2 separate regions of the Homo sapiens genome follow, and region 2 is linked to region 1. The links come from fine-mapping of genetic effects on gene expression. A gene starts in region 1. The other region holds a variant in brackets. All regions are shown on one strand. Distances are from middle to middle. Region 1 holds the start of ZNF662 (zinc finger protein 662). Region 2 holds the start of KRABD1 (KRAB domain containing 1).

What was found. PIP is the estimated chance that this variant, and not a neighbour inherited with it, causes the effect. A credible set is the group of variants that fine-mapping cannot tell apart.
Region 2: its variant is the best candidate, but not a certain one, in a credible set for the expression of ZNF662 in whole blood (TOPMed, PIP 0.86).

The regions. Positions count from the first base shown.
Region 1 is chr3:42,904,864-42,907,771 of GRCh38, reverse strand. It overlaps ZNF662 (zinc finger protein 662), which reads right to left and starts at 1,630. Exons shown (of 5, transcript NM_207404.4): 1 at 1,604-1,630.
Region 2 is chr3:42,934,496-42,937,403 of GRCh38, reverse strand. It overlaps KRABD1 (KRAB domain containing 1), which reads right to left and starts at 1,018. Exons shown (of 5, transcript NM_001205272.2): 1 at 949-1,018. KRABD1-AS1 (KRABD1 antisense RNA 1) reads left to right here and starts at 619. Exons shown (of 2, transcript NR_122033.1): 1 at 619-1,647; 2 at 2,048-2,908. The variant A/G (reference allele first, on the strand shown) is at 1,460.

The DNA of each region.
Region 1 (2,908 bases):
AAAGTTTTCTTGTTTCATCCTTATACCCCAAACCACATCTGTGCTCTAGGTCCCATCCTCTCTCCACAATGTGTCCTCCTTCAGAGGTCACCCACCCTTGATAACAACTATCATTTATTAAGCCTGTGCCAAGCACTTGACATATATTCTTTGTTATGTCTCATAGCCTACTATCAGATCCGTTTTTTAGAAGAGGAAACTGAGACTCGGAGGGATTAACTTCCCCCAAAGTTCCAGAACTGAGACAGAACCCAGGCCTGTTTGACTCTGGCTCTTGCCTGTTATGCCACACTGCCTTCCGTCCCCATTCCTGCCATCCCTGCTGCCCCTGTATAGGACTCTTCCTCCTTTGTCCTCCCCAGTCACTGCCACCAGCCACAGAGGCAGCTAGGGCTCCTCAGAACATTCAGGTTGCTCTGAACACTGTACTCAACAGGGCAGATCCTCGTTGTGACTTTACTCCCTGCACCCCCACCACCCGCAACACTCTCACAAAGATCCCACCTCACTTGCTTACCCACGTCCCAATCTCCATGTCCCCATTTTCTATATCTCTAGGAGTCTCAGCTCCTGCACCTTCTTTCTCTCATCCTCTTAAGAAACAAATACTGCTGACCTCCAGCCGTTGGGACTTCCCGTAATTCTCAGCCACTGCCTCCTTCAGGGTCTCAGTCTCCACACTGTGGAGGAGCCCATTCTGGTCCACTGCACTTCAGTCCTTGCGCACTAGAAAGTCTCCACAGCTATTTATCCAGCACTCCAGGGCTCCAAGGCTTTGGCTGGCTCAACTTTGTCTGCCTAATAGAGTCCACATTCCTCTGCACTACAGACAATTCCATTCACTACTCACAGACCCAGCTTTCCTGGCCAGGATCATCAGCCACCACCACTCTCATCTCCGATCCTCTCACCATTGCATTGGGAAACCAAACTCTTTCCTCACCCTGTTCTGTGTCCTTGCACCTGCGGCTACTCTTGCCTGAATATCCAGTTCTTCCTTCCTGCTCCTGCATTGCAAATTCCTTTTCAACCTAATACCCAGCTCAAACATAACCAGCTCTGTAAAGGCAGCTCTGAAATTCTGGCCATTCATCGCCCCCGACAGCACTCTGTGCGCTCTGCCCCAGCAGTCGGCTCAACCCCGTGCCGCTGCACGTCTGCTCTCCTTGAGGCTCAGGTCCAGGGGTGTCGACTCCGCTGTGCTGCCTGTCCCTCGAGGCCCCTCACTCTGGGTTGTACCCCCATTTCCCAGCCGCCGCACCACCCCGTCTCCGGGCCTAGAACCCAGGGCAGGGCCAAGACTGCTTCCAGGCTCCGGCCCCGCACTCACCCGGCGCGCCCGGGGCAGCGCGGGCTGTCCCGGGAGCAGCTCGAGGACAAGGCCGAGGCGTGTCCCGCTCGCCAGCGCCACGGCCGCCATAGCCCAGGTCGCCCTCTGGGAAAGCGAGGGCGCGCCAGACCGGACCAGAGGCTGTTGGGGTCGCGGAAGAGCGCTCTGCACCTGGGCAGGCCTGACACGGCTACCCTGCGCCCTGCAGCCACCGGAGTAAGACCCCGACTCCACTCCCTGCCCGCCCCACGCCCGACTCCCCGTGCTCCACACCCGCCAGGCCCCAGCATCCGGGAGGCCGGGGCTCGGGCCGCTCCGGTTGCTCTAGGACGGCGGAGGGCGCCGCATCTCTGTGGTCCTCCTTTCTCGCTCGGGGAGGGAGGGGAGAGCGGTCCGGTTCTCCTGGAGACACGGACGATCCCAGGGACCGCTACCGGGGTAGGGGTGCAGGCGGCTGGGGAGGAATCCTTCCCCTGCGCTCTAGGCCACCCCTTCCTCTCCAGCTCGCTGCACCCTAGGTGGACAGATATTTGCTGATAGGAGGTAGCGGGTACTTCACTAGACTGCACCTGCTCTTTTATCTCTCCTTTTACCAGTTTTTGCATTCCCAGAGCAGACCTGTATTTTATGTCTTTTAACATTCTCATCTTTGTGCCTCTAACATGCGCCCGATGTCTAGCACCTCCTGGGGAGTTATTTCTTTAACTGCCAAGGAATATTTGTAGAATTGTCCACGAAAAGTCAAACTGTAAAATATTTGAAGGGATTTATCCTGAGCCAAATATGAGTGACCATGGCCCGTGCCACAGCCCCAGGAGATCCTGAGAACATGTGCCCAACGTGGTCGGGCTACAACTTGGTTTTACACATTTTAGGAAGACATAAGACATCAATTAATACATGTAAGATGTACGTTGGTTCGGTATGGAAAGGTGGGACAACTGGAAGAGGAGGCTTTCAGGACATAGGTGGATTCAAAGATTTTCTGAGTGGCAATTGGTTGAAAGAGTTAAGTTATTGTATAAAGACTTAGAATCAATAGAAAGGGATGTCTCAGTTAAGATAAGGGCTTGTGGAGACCAAAGTTTTATCATGCAGATGGAGCCTGTAGCAGGCTTCAGAGAATAGACTGCAAATGTTTCTCATCATTATCACACTACCGGATAGTCTGTGAGACTTAAAGAGGCTGTTCTATCAGTCTTAAGGTCTGTGTTGATGTTAATGCTGGTCAGCTGGTCCTGAATTTCAAAAGGTAGGGGAGCATAATGAGCCATGTCCAACTCCTCCTTCCCATTATGGCCTGAACCAGTTTTTCACGTTAACTTTGGAATGCCCTTAGCCAAGAGGAGAGATCCATTCATATGGTCAGAGGGCTTTGAATTTTATTTTTGGCTTACGGAATAAAAGAATGAATAAATGTTGAACCAGTTTTTCAGTTGAAGAAAGTAAGGCCCAAAGAGAGAAAATGGCTTACCTAACATTATGCAACATGCCAGGAAATTAAATTTTTTAAGAAGTGTGAAAATAAAGATTATTCAAATGAGAACAAAGACTATTATTCAGAGCTTGCTATATATG
Region 2 (2,908 bases), 30 kb before region 1:
TCTGCGAAAGGGAAATCATCTGGAAATAGAACTACAACAGAGGTCACCCTACAAAACACAAAACACTCCCTATGGAAGTGTCTTCCTATGGGGAAAGCTAAGTGGAGATGAAACATAAATAACAAGCCACATTGGAGAACAAATCACACTCCCAACATAGTTGACTAATGGCAGGGACATCGAATGTTATCCTATGAACCTTGACAATTAAATTATGACAGTGGAGTAAAAGTTCAGAGAATCTAAAGAAAAGAATATAATGAACAATGTTAAGAGGTCAAGAAATCTTTCGACATCTCCAATCCTGTACATAGGAAACTATGTTAAACACTGGACACACATTAGGTGCATGACGGATACGATCAGTCTTTTTAGATTTAACATTCTTATGAGCCAATCCAGATCGCAGGGCTCCATATTTTCCAAAATGGGACATCCTGGGGACGGGTAGGGAATACAATTCGGTATTCTCAAATTTTTGGTTGCTCTACGACAGTAACAAGTTTCAAGACTGGTGTACACTATGGCAGGCGAAAATAACTGATCACCAACTGATTTTCAGGGACCAACTGAAAACGTGGAAACTGACAAGCTGAGGGGTAGGGTTGGGGTTTCCGCATCCGGGTCAAAGACAAGGGGGCTGGAGCGACCGAGGGGCATGTTCTGTTGATAGAAGATTCTGGAGTGTGGACAGTTAAAACTTTTTGTGGGCTTCGAAGTTAACATGCGAATGTGTGTCAGTATCCGACTCTGAGTGGGCCACAGGCTGCCCTGGGTACAGGGAAACGAGGGGGGTGGGAGCCTGCGGCCAGCGTTCCAGGCCTCTGCCAGCGCCGCATCTCGACGCTACAGAGCCAAGCTCGGGGATCGGCATGAGGACCCCAGTACCAGCAGTAGCCACACCCGCCTCCCTCGGGGCTGTTTCCCGTCCTCCTCAGACCCGCTCACCGTGGGCTCCTGGCGGCCTCTGCAGCTTTTCAGCAAGCAGAGATGGTGGGCGCCACTCGCCGATCCTCACAAACCAAAACCTCGCGCGACAAAAACGAAGGCGGCCCCGGAAGTGCGTCATCACACTGACTGGTGAACCCATACACTCTCTGGATTTCTCTCTAGGACTCGTGGAGGACCCCACATCTTGGTGCTTCCCTCCTAATTCCCGTGAGGAAAAGGGCACGCTGGCGAGATAGGCTCTTGGCGTTCCTCCAGAGCCCAGTTCTGAGTTGAGGCACCTTGCTCATGACGCTGCATCATCGTACCAACCTTGAATACTGGCTTCCAGTGCCTTTATTACTGTGCTACAATAACTGCAACTACAAGTCTTACCCAGAATATGCAAGAAAATGTGAATGGTTATACGTTTTATTGATCTTGTTAAATTTAGCATTTGGATTGTTATAGCATAATGAACGAATCACACATTATACAACCAGGACTTCTCTTGAATTGCTGTAATGATTGC[A/G]CTCCTAGAATGTGATGTCTTTCAATGTTGCTGACGCCTCTCACTTCCATACATTACCACTAGCAGAGAGGATTAGCAATGGACCATGGGCAAAGTGAGAGCAGTCAGTTTACCCAAGAAATATTCATCCCCTGTCCAGCAGAGCTTAACACTGTCCCAGGAAAACAGCATGACTACATCAATCAGAGGTAAGAAAGGATACCTATCATGATGAAAAACCTGTTGAAAGCACTTAGAGGAAATAGGTGTGGCCACCCCAGAGAACTTCCTGACATGCTGTGCCAAAGCCTGTGGAGAAGGTAGAGTAACTGCTTTGATGCCAACAGCGAAGGGTGTGAAGAATAAGGGACATTTGCCCCCACCTCCATTGTCCTTGGGTGTTGTGTATCACATGCAGTATCACTGTAGGAAGACAAATGAGCACAGGCTGACACAGGGGCCCACACATGCAGCTCACATCTGCTGCAGGGGTTTGCAGTCGACCCCTCATAGCCCAGAGCCCTGAATTCACCCTGTGCCTGGCATAAGTGAGAGCCACCCAAAGTCACTGCCGTTCTGGTAGCTCAGTCTCTTTTCTTTATTTTTCAGGGTTTTTAAAAGTGTGATTCTTTTTGAAAAATCAAGAAATTCACCTTCTCACGATGTAGAAAACTGAAAAGTGCATGGCCTCACCCTTACAACAACAAAAAACAGCCAGATAATCTAAAATTTTCTCTTGAACACATCAGAAAGCTAAGATCTGGGGGCAAACGACTTAATCTAAAATCTGATGTAAGACAGGCACTTTCAAGAAGAGATGGTTGTAAGCACTTGTTTACATAGGACAGATGCCATTGGATGCCATGTAAGCTGTTAAGGAGAAATCAGCTAAAATGTTTAATGAGTTGCTGAGGTCCAAGTGTTGGCTAGCCTGAGAATATAGAGACTACAGAACTCCTGTGAACCACAGACACAAGCAGAATTTCCACCCACTTGTATATTCTTCTCTATGGACATCATCAAATGTGTGCACACACACATACACACATACAATTGAAGGTAAGGCAAGAAGAATCTTATGAAAACCTTCCCGCTAGAAAAGACATGAATCCCCATCCAGGTCCTTCTCTCCTATTTCCCCTACAGAACAAAAGCCCTAAGCCTCTGAGGATGAAAAAGCAAATCTTGTCACCCTTAGGGACTGGTTAAGATCCAGTGGAACTGAAGGGAATAAAGAGAACAAAAAGCTCTCCATTCACGAAATAGCGGTAGAATTGCATCCTGGTTCCAGACCATGGAGGTGTCCTACAGCTGAGGATAGGGCAACATCACTTAATAGACCCCACCCTTAAGTCTCAGAGACACAGTGCCTACCTAAGATTAAAGCTGAATCACAACAGAAAATGCCATCCCTTCTACCACCACCAAAATATCAAATGCTGAGTCAATAAGAACAGCAATCTACTGCTA